Linked DNA regions of Homo sapiens. The protein of the gene in region 1 purifies or fractionates together with the protein of each later gene. This does not show direct contact. Each region holds a gene or a part of one and is shown in the gene's direction. Other genes may lie near its edges.

Region 1 (5,115 bases):
TATGTTTTTAATGGTTCTTTTTAAAAGGACAACTTTATCAACATATAATACTCTGTATAATTTGCTGATTTAAAGTGTGTAATTCAAAGGTTTTGAGTACTTTCACAGTTCTCCAGCCATCACTACAATCAATTTTAGAACATTTTCATGACCTCCAAGAGAAACCCTTACCTATTCTTTATCAGCTCCCCGACCCCCTCCACCCTTCAGCATCCGCTCATCTGTGTATTTCTCTATTCTGGACTTTTCTGTGGATGGAATCATGCCATATGTGCTCCTTTGTGACTGGCGTCTTTCACAAGCATCCATGTAGCACGTATTAGCACTTCATTCCTTTTAACGGCCAAATAGTATTCCACTGTATGGGTATAACGCATTTTATTTATCCATTCCTTTTTTTTTTTTTTTTTTGAGACAGGGTCTCTCTCTCTGTCATCCAGGCTAGAGTGCAGTGGTGTTATCATGGCTCACTGCAGCCTCCACCTCCAGGGCTCAAGCAGTCCTCCCACCTTAGCCTCCTGAGTAGCTGGGACCGCAGGCATGTGCCACCATGCCCGGCTAATTTCTGTATTTTTTGTAGAGATGGGGTCTTACCATGTTGGCCACACTGGACTCAAACTCCTGAGCTCAGGAGATCTGCCCACCTCAGCCTCCCAAAGTGCTGGGAATACAAGCGTGGGCCACCGCACCTGGCCTACACATTCCTACTCGATGGGCATTTGGGGATGTATGTGTCCATTGCTCCTGGGTGTATACCGAGGTGTGGAATTGCTGTCCTGTGCTGACCATGTGGGGCCGTTAGAGGACCGGCCAGGCTGTCAGAGCAGCTGTGCCATTTTGTGTTCCCCAGCTGTGTGTGAGGGTTCTGATTTCTCCACACTCTTTGACTCTGGCCATCCTAGTAGGTGTGAAAACTTTCTCATGTCTTGCCTCATTAGATTTTCGGACAAGCAAACACCACGCTGAAGCGATGGCTCTTGGACTTTGCCTCCAAGAGGAAAGAAGCAGAGCTTCGCAGCGGCATCATCAGAAACAACAGCCTGTGGGACCGGCTGATCTTCCACAAAGTACAGGTAACACGTGACTCACAGCCACTGCTCCCATGGAAACCGACTTCGCTTTTCAGAGTTCTGGGAGGGCCTTTTTTGTGAGAGGGAGAGATGAAGGTAAGGGAGAGAATAACATGTTTTTGTTAATTCTGGCACACATTTAAAAACTAAGGCAAAGCCATTAAGGAGGCCTCAGTTTCTAAGATCAATAGTATTGCAGCCATCTAGGGGGAAAAGGAGTCAGGGTAGTGGAGCCTTTCTCATTCTCCATTTTGTTGCGTTTTTCCGGAACAAGCGTGTCACTCTTGAGGTAATTTTTCAAGCATGAGTGATAACGTGTAACAATATCATGCCCCCCAGAAGGCCAGAATTGTGGTAGTTGCCACAGATCTGCCCAGTTGTGTTCTAATTCCCTGAAATAGCTTCTGCAGAGGTGGGGCTGACTTCCATCCCCATTGGGAGGGAACAGGGCAGTCACGGGTGGAAACAAACCGTAGCCCTGTGCTGCCATCATGAGGGCTGTGAGTTCTCCGTGTGGCCTCCGTGTGGTCTGCAGCTATGGGTTAGGGAACGGGGTCCCAAGCAGGCCCCCTTGGCGGAGAGGCCGCCGACTTCCAGGTGTGTAACCCTCACCTTCTCCCACTCTCCCTCCCTGAAAGTCGAGCCTGGGCGGAAGAGTCCGGCTGATGGTGACAGGAGCCGCCCCGGTGTCTGCCACTGTGCTGACGTTCCTCAGAGCAGCCCTGGGCTGTCAGGTGAGGTGGATGTCACGGCGCCTGATTCTCCCACACTAGGATGCCCAGTCCTCTTCTGCACCAAAAGTCATCTGTACTGTGTGTGTGTGTGTGTGTTCTTTCTTAATTGACAAGCGTATCTATATTTATGGCGTAACAACATGATGTTTTGATGTATGTAATATGTAAACATTGTGGAATGGCTAAATGAAGCTAATTAACATGTGTCTTACCACCCATACTTTTTTTTCCCACGTGGTGAGAACACTTGGAATCTACCCTCTGGGCAGTTTTCAAGTATATGATACATTGTTGTTAGCTCTAGTCACCACGTGGTGCTATGGAGCTCTTGAACCAGTTCCTCCTGATGGAGACTTTGTGTCCTTTCACCAACATCACCCCTATCCTTCCCACCCCCTACTTTGTGTGTGTGTGTTATGTTTGTTTGGAAGATATGTTATTATTAGGTTGCTTGGAGAAGCAACCATATGTATATTTTTTACCCTAGGCAGGGGAATGTGTGTGTCTGCCATTTGTTGAATTTTCTCTAGGATCAGGTGCAAGACAACCTTTAGAAGCAGGTATGCAGCTGTGGAATGGGTCACAGGTGATGAGCCTACCCGCACACCATGCTGACAACCTGTAGTAAAGGGAGAAAGGAGGATTTGGTGGCAGACGGGGCATGTGTGGGGTACATGTCCTGTGAATTGGCCAAGGGAGTTCACTGCTGCTGGGTGGTGACCAGTCACATAGGGGTTCTCCCTCGCTTGGCCACTGGAAGTTAAATAGAAGGTGTACCTGGGTGACGGCTGGTGTTGGCGTAAAGCACACTGGACCATTGAATGAACTTACTGAACAGACCATTTGAAATGAGATTTCACCAGTCAGCCATGACTTGGGAGTTAGTGAGACTTCATTGCTTGTGCACTTCCAGTAAAGGTGTGATTGTGCTCTCCTTAATAATGTTGCATCTCTTGGTGCCCCAGTTTTATGAAGGATACGGACAGACAGAGTGCACTGCCGGGTGCTGCCTGACCATGCCTGGAGACTGGACCGCAGGTATGGCTGTAGGAGGCTCCTTTTTGGAATTTTGTTATTCATACTGGGTTATTGGTATGTCTGGAATTGGGTTAATCACTGACTGGTTCATTAACCATCTTAAACAAAAGTGCTATGTTTCTGATCATTAGGCTCTGGGGGCAAACACTCTTGTAAGTCAGGGCACTGTGGGGAGAACACCTCCTGCAACTGAGGGGTGGCGCTGGGGATCTGACTGTAAAGCTGGTGGCAGCAGAGACTTGCCTAGACTCTACTAGTGACATCTGAGAGGGGCCCTGTGTTCCAGATTGAGAGTGTCTGGCCCAACAGAGCTTCCTAGTAATTGAGTAGGGTCTCGTTATTTGCTGGTCATTTTAAACAACAAATAGTTATTGAATTTGTACTGTGTGCTGTGCTAGGTGTTGGGACTACCAATAGGAATAAATACAAGTCCTTTTTCTCAAAAAGTCATTTCTCAAAAGGAAAAAGGAGGAGGACAAACAAAAATAATTGAGCATCTGTCATGGGTAAGCCTCTGTGATGGGTGCTTAGGATGTACCTAATGTCAGTGTAACCCCAACAGTGTCCCTGTGAGATAAGTTCTGGTACTTCTCAGAGGAAATTATAGATTGTTGCTTAAGTAACACATAAATGATGTATGAGAATTTACGCGGCATTATGCTTTGGAGCCAGGATTTCAACCCCGGCCTGACTGCAGAGCTTCTGTGCTTCCTCTGTGTCACCTGAGTAGTAAATTCTACACTGTGATAAATAAACTTCCCAGCTTATTTGGAGTATTATAAGTATTAGCACCATTTAGTAACATATATTCTAGAACCTAGCACTGTCCACTAACATCATTGTCCTGGAATTAACGCAGACAGTCTGTGAATCTTCTTTATGGTATTTGTTTAATTTTTAACCTCAGTTTCCTTAACAGAGAATTTGGAATACTGATCTCTAGAAGCTCAAATTATTAAAACATAGGAAGAATTATTTGTGATATCTAATGTGATATCTAACATATCTAATGTCTGTTGTTGCTGCTTTTGGAAAAGACAGCCCAGTCTTAACAGCCTTTGGCAAGAGAGTTAAGTTAGCTGTAGAAATAAGCACTGTCCCGTCTTAGTAAAAACTGTAAGACATGCTTCTTCATACGCAAGGAAATAAAGGCCGTGTTGATCAGAACCAGGTGGTGCGTGAGGTTTGCCAAAGCTGCATATGTTCTCTCTTCTTACAGAGAACAGGATGCTAAGAATTCTGTGTAAGATGAGTGCAAGTAATGGGTGGGGGCGATCGGAGGGTGGAAGCCGAGTGAAGGTTTGAGAGAGGCTGCTTCCAGGTGTTTGTAGGAACCTTCACATAGAGGCCAAATTACTCATAAATAACTCAGAGCATCACACTTGGAAAAGGTCCTGAAGACACTAAATATGTTCTTCCCTAGTCTAAGAATAGACTCTCTTAAATTATACTAGGAAGAGAATGGCTGTAATTGCAGAAATCAGAAGTTTATCCCAGCCGTTTTTCTTATGTGGAATCCTGTTTGCTATCAAAATAATTTGACCTGAGGTTATGAGTAGTTCCCTTAGGAATGACCATTTGCTTATTTAATATACAGGCCATGTTGGGGCCCCGATGCCGTGCAATTTGATAAAACTTGTTGATGTGGAAGAAATGAATTACATGGCTGCCGAGGGCGAGGGCGAGGTGAGTGAAAACCGTCAGTCATTTTCCCTCGCTGCCATTTCCTGTGATCGCTGGCCTTTGCGAATGCTGTGGTATTTCCCAACAGCTCAATAAAGCCATTGAACTTGACTTCATTGGTGATCCTGGAGTCTGCCAGGCTTCTTTCTGAGGGTACATTTATGTTCAGCTCTCGGGGAGTGGGCAGGAGGGACACTGATGCCTGTCTTCCTCTGCCAGGCCTCATAGGGATTTGGGCTGGAGAGCCTGCAAAGAAAGGCCCGGTGGCCTCAGTTCCTGGGACGAAGGTCCTGCCTGTTGATTGCCCTGGGTACCTATTAGTGAGCTGCTGGCTGCTGGATGGGAAGCCTAATTACTTAAAAGTGATTTCATCCCCTGCGGGGCTTTCCAACAGCTTTGAGCCAGAACCTAGGGCAAGCATTTGCCCTACAAATCGGCCAGAGCTGAGGTAATTCAGGAAGGGAAGTAGGGGCACTGGAGATCTCTCGCAGACCCTGGTGGGGCTCTGGTAACTCCCTCTGCATCCTGGAGTTTAGGGCTTCCAGCTAAAGGTTGGGGCAGACACACACGTACACACATGCACACACCAG
Region 2 (4,307 bases), on another chromosome or scaffold:
TAAATCCTTTAAAATGTATTCAGGCTTGTTTTATAGCCCAGAATGTGGTCTGTCTGAGCTGTGTTCCATGTGTGCTTACGAAAAATATGTCTGTACTCAGCAATGTATTGTGCTGTTTGTTGCTGGGTGGAGTATTCTGTTATGTCATAATGCTCCATAAATGTCAGTTAAGGCAAGTTGGTAGTGTTATTCAAGTCCTCTATTTTCTTGCTTTCCTGTTTGTTCTCTCAGTTATTAAGAGAGGTATAACTATAATTGTGATTTATTTCTCCTTGTAGTTCTATCAGTTTTTGCCTCGTATTTTACATCTGTGTAATTAGGTGCATAAAACATTTAGGATTGCAATATCCTATTGACCAGTTGGCTCACTTAACATTATGAAGTGACTTTATTACCCCTGGTGATATTGTTTACTCTGAAATCTGCTTTGGCAGATATTAACATGGGCACTAATCTTTCTTTTAATTATTGTGAGCATGATGTATCTTTCTCTGTCCTTTTAATGTGTATGTGTCTTATATTTAAATTGTAATTCTCGTAAAGAGCATATATTTGGGTCTTTTAAAATCCAACCTGAAAATCTCTGCCTTTTAATAGGGGGTTTTGACCATCTACATTTAATGTGATTATTGATATAGGCTTAAGTCTATCATTTGCTCTTTTGTTTTATTGTCTGTCCTCTTCTTTGTTCCATTTTCTCCTTCTTTGACCTTCTTTTGAATTAATTGATCTTTACAATTTTTTTAATTTTGATTTTTAAAAATGATTCTATCTCCTTATTGGCATATTACTAGTAATTCTTTTTGTTACTTTATTGATTGCTTTAGGGCTTATAACATGTGTCTTTGAGTTATCACAGTCTACCTTCAAGTTACGTACTGTTTCATATATAATACCTTATAAAAGTATACTTCTATCTCTTCCATCTTGGCCTTTATGCTATTATGGTGCATTTTATATGTTGTAAACCTCACACTGTATTGCTACTATGTTTAAACAGTTGATTATATTAATAGTTTTTAAAGATTTAGGTTTAAAAAACCCAAAATATATGTATTTATTCCTATAGTTACCATTTCTAGTTCTCTTCATTCCTTTTTGTAAATCCATCTAGTGTCATTTCCTTCTGCCTGAAGGGCCTCTTTTAACGTTTATTGTAGTGCAAGTCAGCTGGACTGAATCATTTCAGTTTTTGTATGTTTGTAAAAGTTTTAATTTTGCCTTTAGTTTTTAAAGACAACTTGATCGAGACATAGTTTGCATGTCATAAAATTCACTAATTTAAGATGTACAATGCAGTTATTTTTAGTAAATTTGCCAAGTTTTGCAGTCATCACAACAATCCGTTTTTTGAAAATTTCTGTCGCACATTAAGATCCCTCATGCCCATTTACAGTTAATCCTTCTTCCCACCCCCAGCCCAAGGCAACCACTAATCCATGTTGTCTCCAAATGCCTTTTCTGAACATCCCATATAACTGGAATAATACATGCTTGCAACACATATACTAAAATTGGAAGAGTACAGAGAAGATTAGCATAAAAACCAAGAAAAATTTAAAAAGGGAAAAAAATAAATGGAATCATACAATAAGTGTTTTTTTGTTTTTTTTTTGGAGATGGAACTTCACTCTTGTTGCCCAGGGTGGAGTGCAATAGTGTGATCTCGGCTCATTGCAACCTCCGCCTCCTGAGTTCAAACGATTCTCCTGCCTCAGCCTCTCAAGTAGTTGGGACTACAGGTGTGTGCCGCCATGCCCTGCTAATTTTTTTTTGTATTTTTAGTAGAGACAGGGTTTCACCATGTTGGCCAGGCTAGTCTTGAACTCCTGACCTCAGGTGATCCACCTGCCTCAGCCTCCCAAAGTGCTGGGGTTTCAGGTTTGAGCCACCGTGCCCGGCCAATAAGTGGTCTTTTTTGTCAGGTGTATTTTGCATAGCATAATGTTTTTGAGGTTCATCTGTGTATTATGTATCAGTATTTCTCCCCTACTCTTCACTTCACATCCTAATTTGTATTTTTCTGTTTTCAAAACATATTCACAGTTTTATTTAGGAATATATTTCTAGTAAGCCTCCTCACATCATTTGTACATTGAATTAGAATATAAATTAAAAGTATGCACTTTCTTATATTTATTTATGTACCTGAATAATCCTGCTTACAAGACTTATAGTATAATTGGGTCCTGTTTGTTCTTGTATCCATTAGAGCCTAGTGCTAGTAGACTTTAAATTAATATAACTTGAATTGAATTGAATCATACTCTTGTAAACTCACTTGAATCGTGTTTGAATGTTAGGACACACAAACATCTAGAATAATAATACTAATTATAGTTACAAAACATGTATTTCACAATCTTTAGTGGTAAAGGCTACGTGAAATGGCTTATTGGTCCTACATACAGTCTTTGTTTTGGGTTATGAAACAGTGATTCTTTGAAATTATGCCGACATGGTTTAAAAAACCTATTTCCCTAAATCTTATCCTCAGTGGTTGGCATACTTATAGGAAAAGTTAAATGTGAATTAGAATTAAAAACAAAAAACTTTTGGCCAGGCATGGTGATTCATGCCTATAATTTCAGTACTTTGGGAAGCCCAAGTGGGAGGATTGCTTGAAGCCAGGAATTCAAGGGCAGTTTGGGCAACATAGCAATACCCTTTACAAAAATAAAATAAAAAATTAGCCAGGCATGGTGGTACCCACCTGTAGTCCCAGCTACTTGGGAGGCTGAAGCAGGAGGATTACTTGAGCCCAGGATTTCGAGGCTGCAGTGAGCTATGATCACACCACTGCACTCCAGCCTGAGTTACAGAGTGAGACCCTGTCTCCAAAAAAAAAAAAAACCACCTTTTTATTAATTTTATCATTTCGCATCTATTTTCAGATGCGAGAGTGTAGTAATTTTCTAGATAACTTGCCTTTGAAAGATACAGTGGCCAGAAGACCTGTTTATTTGAATTCTGCAGTTACCTTAGCCTTCTCTTTTACTTTTTGTTATTTTTGAAGAAAAAGTTTTTTTTCTCATGACTACTAGTGAGTTAATCTGTCCTGGTATTATTTTCTGTGTTACCAGATAGCATACTGGTCTGAGAGAGCTCTGTAAATATATATATTTAAAAACCCACCTAAAATCAAATGAAAAAAAAGATCTGTTTTATTTCCCCACATAAACTCAACCTTCTCTGGGGCTTCCCTGCTTTCTTGAAAGACAAGAAATGTGGAAGAGAAAGATGCTGGACAACCTAGAAACCAAGTCAGACTGTTCAGAAGAACCTTATGCCCTAGTCATGCAAGTAAAAGCCTGGCTGCTTCTCTGCCCGCTCCCTTTCCGGCAGAGAAGTAGTAGTATGCTGAATTCCGGACTCTAATCTGTTTACTTGACATCTCTGCTTGGAGATCTAATAGGCATTGTAGACAAAACTCTTGATTTTCTTTTTTTTTCTCCCTTGAACCTGCTGCTCCTAATAGCTCAGTAAATGACAGCTGTATCCTTCTACTTCTTGGGTTGAAAAGTCATTCTCCATCTGGATAATCAGCTTGTTCTGTCATTAAATGTCTAAAATCCAGCTGCTTCTCACCACTACTACTGCAACTGTTACACTCCTTTAAACCACCATGATCACTGCTTAGTGTAATAGATTGAAAAACATGACTATAATAATTTGCACCATCTGGGTGCAGTGGCTCACGCCTGTAATCCCAGCATTTTGGGAGGCCGAGGTGGGCAGATCACCTGAGGTCAGGAGTTCGAGACCAGCTTCATCAACGTGGCAAAACCCCATCTCTACTAAAAATACAAAAATTAGCACACACCTGTAATCCCAGGTACTCAGGAGGCTGAGGCAGGAGAATCGCTTGAACCCTGGAGGCAGAGGTTGCAGTGAGCTGAGATCATGTCACTGCTCTCCAGCCTGGGCCACAGAGTGAGACTCTGTCTCCAAAAAAAAAAAAAAGTATAATAATAATAATAATTTGTACCTTCTTCCATCAAGAAATAGTCTGTTTACCGCCCATTGAATCTGGGCTGGCCTTGTACTTGCTTTGGCCAGTAGAATGTGGTAGATATGTGAGTTCTGGAACTTAGGCCTCAAGACATCTTCTGCCTTAGCTCTTTTGGGACATTCCCGTCATCATGTAAGGAGTCCAGACTAGACTGCTGAGTGAGAGACCACATGGAGAAGAGGCCCAGCCAAGAGAAGCCAGAACCCCTAATGTGTGAACAAGGCGATTTTAGACTCCCACCCCATTCGAGCTGCCTGATGACTGCTATTAGTAGAGAAACATTCCAGCTGATCAT
Region 3 (3,815 bases), on another chromosome or scaffold:
CCAGCATTTTAATGAGTCTTGGCCTTGTCCCTTATCAGCCATCACTTACTGCAAACTAAGTTCTCTCTCGTGCTCTGTCACGCATAGCTCTAAATGGCGTCTTTTTTCTCTCTCTCTTTCTTTTTTAATTTAAATTGTTTCATCAGCTCAGTTACTTAATAACATGCCTGTAGAATGGCTTAAATTTCGCATTTACCTGGGGTTTGTCTCCGTTCTCCTGGATTCATAGACAGTTACACAATTATGTGTATAATTTAAACAGCCATTCCCAGAAGCTCCGAAGGAAAGATGGGTTACAGGATTTTAGATTTAACTATCAAAGGCTCAGGGGCTAATTAACTAGCACTTGGGTGGAAATTTATATTAAGTCACACATATCTAGGACTGAAATCTTCATGTAGCAGCACGTCATAGGTTCTGAAGTATTTCTCCTTTATTCCTCATCATAACCCCCACACCACGCATTGATATCGTTACCCCCATTTGACAGACGGGGAAAACAGACCTAGGAAGGTTAGATGCTTACTTAAGTGATACAACTGGAGCTTAAGTTCAGGTATTCTGACTCAAGGGTTACCAGAGTTCACAAGGAAAAATACAGGACACCAACTTAAATCTGAGTTTCAGATAAGCAATGAATAATTTTTTAATCATAAGTATATCTCTTGCATAAGTACATCTCATGCAACATTTGGGATATACTTACACTAAAATATTATTTGTGGTTTATCTGAAATTCAATTTAACTGGGCGCCCTGCATTTTATCTTACAACTGTGACTCCCAAATTTGGTGCTTGTTCCTTAGTATTCTGTGATGTTCTGCTGTAATTAAAAATACAAAGTACTGGACAGGCATGGTGGCTATAACCCACCTGTATTCCCAGCACTTTGGGAGGCTGAGCAGATGGGTTCCTTGAGCCCAGGAGCTCAAGACCAGCCTGGGTAACATGGTGAGACCCTGTCTCTAGAAAAAATGCAAAAATTGGCCAGGTGGTGGCATGCACCTGCAGTCCCAGCTATGCGGGAGGCTGAGGTGGGAGGATCACCTGAGCCCAGGGAGGTCAAGGCTACGGTGATTCGTGATTACGCCACTGCACTTCAGCCTGGACAACAGAGTGAGACCCTGTCTCAAAAAAAAAGTACTTTCTCTCTTGTGACTTTCACCCTGGCAGTTTCAGGTTTAGAAATCTTTGGGGGGGTGCTGGGCATGGTGGCTCACACCTGTAATCCCAGCACTTTAGGAGGCCAAGGTGGGTGGATCACTTGAGGTCAAGAGCTCGAGACCAGCCTGGCTAACATGGTGAAACCCCATCTCTACTAAAAATACAAAAATTAGCCGGGTGGTGGTGGCACGCGTCTGTAATCCCAGCTACTCGGGAGGCTGAGGCAGGAGAATTGCTTGAGCCTGGCAGGTGAAGGTTGCAGTGAGCCAAGATCGCGCCACTGCACTCCAGCCTGGGTGACAGAATGAGACCCTGTCTCAAGAAGAAGAAAAAAAAACAAATCTTTTTTTTTCTTTCATTTAACAAAGACGCTTATTAATTTATCTTTCCCCATACTCTTAATCCTCACCAGAGAAACTTGCCCAGGCCAAAGAAGAGAACGTGGGCTTACATCAGACACTGGATCAGACACTAAACGAACTTAACTGTATATAAGCAAAACAGAAGAGTCTTGTTCCAACAGAAACTCTGGAGCTCCGTGGGTCTTTCTCTTCTCTTGTAAGAAGTTCCTTTTGTTATTGCCATCTTCGCTTTGCTGGAAATGTCAAGCAAATTATGAATACATGACCAAATATTTTGTATCGGAGAAGCTTTGAGCACCAGTTAAATCTCATTCCTTCCCTTTTTTTTTCAAATGGCACCAGCTTTTTCAGCTCTCTTATTTTTTCCTTAAGTAGCATTTATTCCTAAGGTAGGCAGGGTATTTCCTAGTAAGCATACTTTCTTAAGACGGAGGCCATTTGGTTCCTGGGAGAATAGGCAGCCCCACACTTTGAAGAATACAGACCCCAGTATCTAGTCGTGGATATAATTAAAACGCTGAAGACCATAACCTTTTGGGTCAACTGTTGGTCAAACTATAGGAGAGACCAGGGACCATCACATGGGTAGGGATTTTCCATCCAGAGCCAATAAAAGGACTGGTGGGGGCCGGGGGTGGCTATTGTGGGAAGTCATAACCCACAGATAGATCAACCTAAGAATCCTGGCCCTTCTCCACTCTCCACCATGCAGGACAAACATCTTCTCAAGCAGTCAACGTAGAATGCTTGGGAAATAGTCATAATTACCCACATATAGTAATTAATAGATGGTAATTAATTGATCCTTGATGTGATGTTCTTTTGCATATTTCCTTCATTCTAAAGTTGTTCCCTGGCCGGGAGCGTTGGCTTTCGCCTGTAATCCCAACACTTTGGGAGGCCAGGACAGATCACTTGAGGTCAGGAGTTCGAGACCAGCCCAGCCAACATGGCGAAACCATGTCTCTACTAAAAATACAAAAATTATGGTGACGCCTGCCTGTAGTCCCAGCTACTCGGGAGGCTGAGGCAGGAGGATCGCTTGAACCCAGGAAGTGGAGACTGCAGTGAGCCGATATCGCACCACAGCGCTCCAGCCTGGTCGACAGAGTGAGACTCCATCTCAAGAAAAAATAAAAATAAAGTTGTTCTCTGAAGAGCAAATGTCTCATTCCAGTAATGACCCACTCAGCAGGAATATGGTGGAGTTCAGTCCAATTCAGGTCAGCCATATCCAAAAGACCACAAGTCATTACTAAGTTGAGCAAAAGAGTTTTTATCTATTAGCAGAAAGGGCCTCTCTGGCAGCAGAGATTAAAAACTGGCCCAACTTCATTTCCATACTTCAGGGAACAGCAAATTGAGGATTTACTTATCTAGGACTTGAATTCCTTCTTTGGGACCAAGTTAATAAAAGACCAAGAAACTCCTGATTAAACTGGATAATGAAGGATTCTGTAGACAGGGCTGCACGTATCGGCTTTGTTTGACTTCTCTTTTCTCAGTTAACATCTCAGAGCTAGAACATTCCACATTCCCCAGCAGCGTGTGGGGGCTGACTAAAGTTTACAATTCCAACTAAAAATCACCCTGCTTCTGGCTTATCTGAATCCCTTACCCACCCCACCCCACCACCCTACTCCTATTTATTCAGCACCACACTACCCAGGAAATACACTAGCAAATTGTGCAATGGAATAAAATCCACACTTTAGATTCTTGCAACTGTATCATATGTAATAGTATCACTTTTTCTACATTTTGGTCAAATAAATTTTTACATAAACTACAATTTGCGTGAATTTTAGAATGTGTGGGGGTACACAGAGCATTTTGGTTCAACAAATGTTAAAGGGATGGAAAGGGAAAATAACCAGAGCCAAGAATGTAGACAAGGTTATCTATTTGCTTTATACTGTGACTTCATGATACAAGGATATTACAGTCTCATTGCAGGCGAGAGCACTCAGCCTCGGTCACTCGAAAACTCCTGGCCTTCCTTATCCCCTACGCTGCCTAAGCCAGGCTGTGAAGAATGAGTAGGATTTTAAGAGATAAAAGCAGGGAAAATCATCTCTGTTGCCTGAGTTAGGAAGATCTGCCTAGCTAAGGCTGAGTTACACATACAAAGGAAAGCAGACCAGCATGGGCACCATAGTGAGACCCCGTCTACAAACAATAACAAAAATTTGGCCAGGTACAGTGGCCAAATTACACCTGTAATCCCAGCACTTTGGGAGGCCGAGGCTGGCGGACCGCTTAGGGCCAGGAGTTCAGGACCAGCCTGGC
Region 4 (4,307 bases), on another chromosome or scaffold:
TATCAATGAATCAAAATAGAAAATCCAGAAATAGGCCCACCCAAATATGCCCAACCAATTTTTGACAAAAGTGCAAAAGCAATTCAATAGAGGAAAGATAACGTTTTCAAAAAATGGCGCTGGAGCAAATGGACACAAAACTTAGACCTAAGTCTGACGTCTTATACAAAAATTAATGGATCATAGACTTAAGAAGTAAAACATAAAACTATAAAACTTTTTTTTTTTTTGAGACAGGGTCTCCCTCAGTCCCCCAGGCTGGAGTGCAGTGGTGCAATCTCAGCTCATTGCAACCTCTGCCTCCTGGGCTCAGTTGATCTTCCTGCCTCAGCCTTCCAAGTAGCTGGGACTTAAAGGCGTGAGCCACCACACCTGACTAATTTTCGTATTTTTTGTAGAGATGGGGTTTCGCCATGTTGCCCGGGCTGTTCTCGAACTCCTGAGCTCAAGCAATCTGCCCACCTCAGCCTCCCAAAGCGCTGGGATTACAGGCATGAGCCACCATCCCAGCCAAAACTATAAAACTTTTAGAAAAGAACATAGAAGAAAATCTTTGGGTCCTGGGGGCAAAGAGCTCTGAGACTTGACATCAAAAGCATGCCGCATAATAGGAAAATACTAGACTTTATTTAGGGGTTAAGAGTTTAGACTCTGGACTCTCTCAGCCTTGGTTTCACTAGTTAGCTCTATCACTAACTACATTGGGCATTGAAAATTCCTCTGTTGTCCCACGTGGTGCATGGATGATTGTAGACGAGGACACTGAGATCCTGAAGGCAGAAGTAATTTCTCTAAGCAACGTTGTTGGTTGGTGGCAGAGTCTGGGTTACAACCCCTGGTTTCCTGATTCCGAGTCCAAGTGAAATACTTTTGCCCCTGCAGTAGACCCTGCTACAGAGGATAAAAAGGCACGTCATAGGCTAGGAGAAAAATTTTGCCTACCACATATGTAACCAAGGACTAGCAGCTAGGACATCTGAAGAATTCTCAACATTCAACGGGGTAGAAGAATGAACGATTCAATAGAATATGGGCAAAAGACATGAAGAGGCATTTTACCAAACATAGGGTGCTATGGTCCGAATGTTTGCATTCTCCTCAAATTCCTGTGTTGAAATCCTAACCCCCAAGGTATTGGTATTAGGAGGCAGGGGCCCTGGGAAGTGATTAGGTCATAAAGGTGGAGTCCTCATGGATGGGATTAGTGTCTTTATAAAAGAGACCTTTGCCATGTGAGGTTACAGTGAGAAGACATCTGTCTATGAAGAAAGTGGGCCCTCACCAAACACAGTCTGCTGGCACTTTGCACTTCAACTCCCCAGCTTCCAGAACTGTAAGGAATATAAGTCTGTTGTTGGTAAGCCACCCGGTCTATGATATTTTGTTATAGCAGCCCAAACAGACTAAGACAGGTGACAAATAAACATGAAAAGATGTTCAACATCATTAGCCATTAGGGAAATGCAGATTAAAACCACAGCGAAATATCATGATACAGTTTTCAGCATGGCTAAACTAGAAAATAGTGACACCACCAAATGCCGACAAGGCTGTGGGGAAACTGGGTTGTTCAGACACTGCCACTGGGGCTGTAGCGTACTATAGCCACTTTCATAAACAGTTTGTCAGTTTCTTAAAAAACTAAACCTGCAACTACCATATGACCCAGCAATTACACCCCTGGGCACCTACCCAAGAGAAATGAAAACTCAACGTTTGCGCAAAAACCTGTGTAGGAATGTTCAAGCAGCTTTATTCATAATATGCCCAAACAGGAAACAACTCAGCTGTCCTTCAGTAGGTAAATAGTTAAGCAAATTGTCATACCCCTGTGTCATGGAGCACTACCTAGCAATAACAAGGAGCAAATTATTGATACATAACAATCTGGATGAATCTCCAGAGAATTATGTTGAATGAAAAAAGCCAGCCCCTGAAGGATACATACTGTATGATGCCATTTACATAACATTCTTGAAATTCTAAAATTACAGAGATGGGGAACAGATTTGTGGTTAAAGATGGAGCCGGGTGGGAAGAAAGTAGGTGTGGCTATAAACGGGTAACATGAAGGATCCTTGTGGTGATGGAAATTTCTGTATTTTTATTGTATCCGTGTCAGTATCCTGGTTGTGATATGGTAATACAGTTTTGCAAGATACTACCCTTAGGGGAAATGAGGTAAGACCTGGCATCTCTCTGTATTATTTCTTAATTGCATGTGAATCTACAATTATTTCAAAATAAAAAGTATGATTGAAGTAACTCTCAGGAAGCTTAGCCTACTGTGGATTAAGACATCAAAATTGCAGCAGGCTTTAACAAAGCTATACTACTACAAGGATAGTTCACACTTGAATTAGCTTGAAACATTACCTATCCATGTCATCTTGGAAAGCAGAAAATGGAACTTTATTGGAGTGGGACACTGGATGGCCAGGGTTTAGCAGAGCCTGCCCAACAAAAGTAGCTTCAGAATTGGCTTTATTCTCAGGAAGGCTCTTCCTGGACAGTGGCAAACATAGCCATAGCAAATACTGGCTCACTTTCTATCAGCCAGCAACCCTGGTGGAAAGAGGGCCTCTTACTCAGTTGTACCAGCAAGCTGTCTCCAGGAGCCGGGGCTGGAGAGACACCCAGTGCTGCTCTAGGCCAGTGTGGCTGAGGGTCTGTCTAGTCTGTCCTTGTACTCACGGCTTCCTTTTCTCTTGCAGACGCCCACTATTGCTTGGTTCTACTTCCTTTATCCCGATTGGCCGTCGGACTTATGCCAGTGCGGCGGAGCCGGTGAGTGGAAGCCCAGCTACCCGGGAGCCAGTTGGATGGTCAGAACCCTTTCTTCTGGGCCCCTAGGCCCTGAGCTACCCTCAGAGTGGGGCCTTAGTGTTTCCAGGACACTGGGAGCCACTTTCTCACTTAACCCTCCCCCAAAGCCCCTCATCAGTAATGAGCTCACACACCCCCATCCATGTGGGGAGGAAGCAGTAATGAGGCACTCCAGCCCCTCCCAGCCAGGAAGGTATCACTGGAGGCCTAGGTGGGGGGCGAGAACTCCCAGCCCCACCCAGCAAGTTAGGGGTTAAGAGTTTAGACTCCGGAGGCCCAGGGCGGTGGCTCCCGCCTGTAATCCCAGCACTTTGGGAGGCCGAGGTGGGTGGATCAACTAAGGTAGGGAGTTCAAGACCAGCCTGGCCAACATGGAGAAACCCCATCTCTACTAAAAATACAAAATTAGCCGGGCGTGGAGGTGCATGCCTGTAATCCCAGCTACTTGGGAGGCTGAGGCAGGAGAACTGCTTGAACCTGGAAGGTGAAGGTTTTGCGGTGAGCCGAGACTGGCCATTGCCCTCCAGCCTGGGCAACAAGAGCCAAACTCCATCTCAAAAAAAAGAAGAAGAGTTTAGACTCTGGAATCTCTCAGCCCTGGTTTCAGTTCCAGCTCTATCACTAGCTACATTGAGCGTTTTAAAAAGACCTCTGTTTCTCACATGTAGCATGGGGGATTGTAGATGAGATCCTGAAGGCAGAAGTAATTTTCCCAAGCAACATTGCTGGTTGGTAGCCGAGTCTGGGTTAGAACCTGGCCTTTCCACTATACCATGGTGCTTCTCCAGACAACAAGAACAAGGTAGGGAGGGCCAGGCTTGGGCCACTCAGGAAGCACTAACTCTCACTGCACAGAGGGTGGAGAGGCCTGGTCACTTTGCCCCTGTACCACCGGTTCCTAACATGGAATCTGACCTTGTAAAACAGGTTGGCAGCAAAGCTGTCCTGGTCACAGGCTGTGACTCTGGATTTGGGTTCTCATTGGCCAAGCATCTGCATTCAAAAGGCTTCCTTGTGTTTGCTGGCTGCTTGATGAAGGTAAGAGACGAGTTATCTTCTTCACCATTGTCTTTTACACATAGTCATTGTTTTTTAGTCTTTTAAAAAGTGCTTTCCTAACAACTGGCTCACCTTTGCTTAAACCAGCCTGTCCATTTTCCATCGGCTTCAGTCCCACTTGTTCTTCATAGCTTTGTCCATCCATCATCCATGCATCCATCCATCCATCCATCCTCTCATCTATCCATCATTCGTCAAATGCTATGATGTACCTGACACTTTGCTAGGTGCAGTAGAAGAATGAGACCTTGTCCCTGCCCTGAAGTTGCTCCCTGTCGAGTGGTGAGGAGACAGCCATGCATAGACACAGCTGAAGAATTCGAGTGAAGCAGATTCTCAGGGGTGTGCGAGAATGTTCGGCGAGACTGTGTAGGAGGAAGGGATTGATGATGGCATGCCAGAGGAAGTGACATTTGTTCTGG

Evidence for each region. Proteins that work in one complex are often made in the same cells at the same time.
Region 2: the proteins of ACSL1 (region 1) and ZDHHC20 fractionate together in Homo sapiens (co-fractionation; one large-scale study listed by BioGRID). This does not show direct contact.
Region 3: the proteins of ACSL1 (region 1) and TPM4 fractionate together in Homo sapiens (co-fractionation; one large-scale study listed by BioGRID). This does not show direct contact.
Region 4: the proteins of ACSL1 (region 1) and BDH1 purify together in Homo sapiens (affinity purification with mass spectrometry, with the first as the bait; one large-scale study listed by BioGRID). This does not show direct contact.

Annotation. Positions count from the first base shown.
Region 1 is NC_000004.12:184,762,580-184,767,694, reverse strand, and holds part of ACSL1 (long-chain-fatty-acid--CoA ligase 1), read left to right. Parts: intron 1-938; coding exon 939-1,073; intron 1,074-1,708; coding exon 1,709-1,804; intron 1,805-2,769; coding exon 2,770-2,842; intron 2,843-4,439; coding exon 4,440-4,528; intron 4,529-5,115. UniProt on the Homo sapiens protein: Catalyzes the conversion of long-chain fatty acids to their active form acyl-CoAs for both synthesis of cellular lipids, and degradation via beta-oxidation. Preferentially uses palmitoleate, oleate and linoleate.
Region 2 is NC_000013.11:21,449,304-21,453,610, reverse strand, and holds part of ZDHHC20 (palmitoyltransferase ZDHHC20), read left to right. Parts: intron 1-4,307. UniProt on the Homo sapiens protein: Palmitoyltransferase that could catalyze the addition of palmitate onto various protein substrates.
Region 3 is NC_000019.10:16,099,688-16,103,502, forward strand, and holds the end of TPM4 (tropomyosin alpha-4 chain), read left to right. Parts: intron 1-1,576; coding exon 1,577-1,659; 3' UTR 1,660-3,315; downstream 3,316-3,815. UniProt on the Homo sapiens protein: Binds to actin filaments in muscle and non-muscle cells. Plays a central role, in association with the troponin complex, in the calcium dependent regulation of vertebrate striated muscle contraction.
Region 4 is NC_000003.12:197,531,969-197,536,275, reverse strand, and holds part of BDH1 (D-beta-hydroxybutyrate dehydrogenase, mitochondrial precursor), read left to right. Parts: exon of another isoform or gene 1-2,086; coding exon of another isoform or gene 2,087-2,181; intron 2,182-2,714; coding exon 2,715-2,787; intron 2,788-3,753; coding exon 3,754-3,864; intron 3,865-4,307.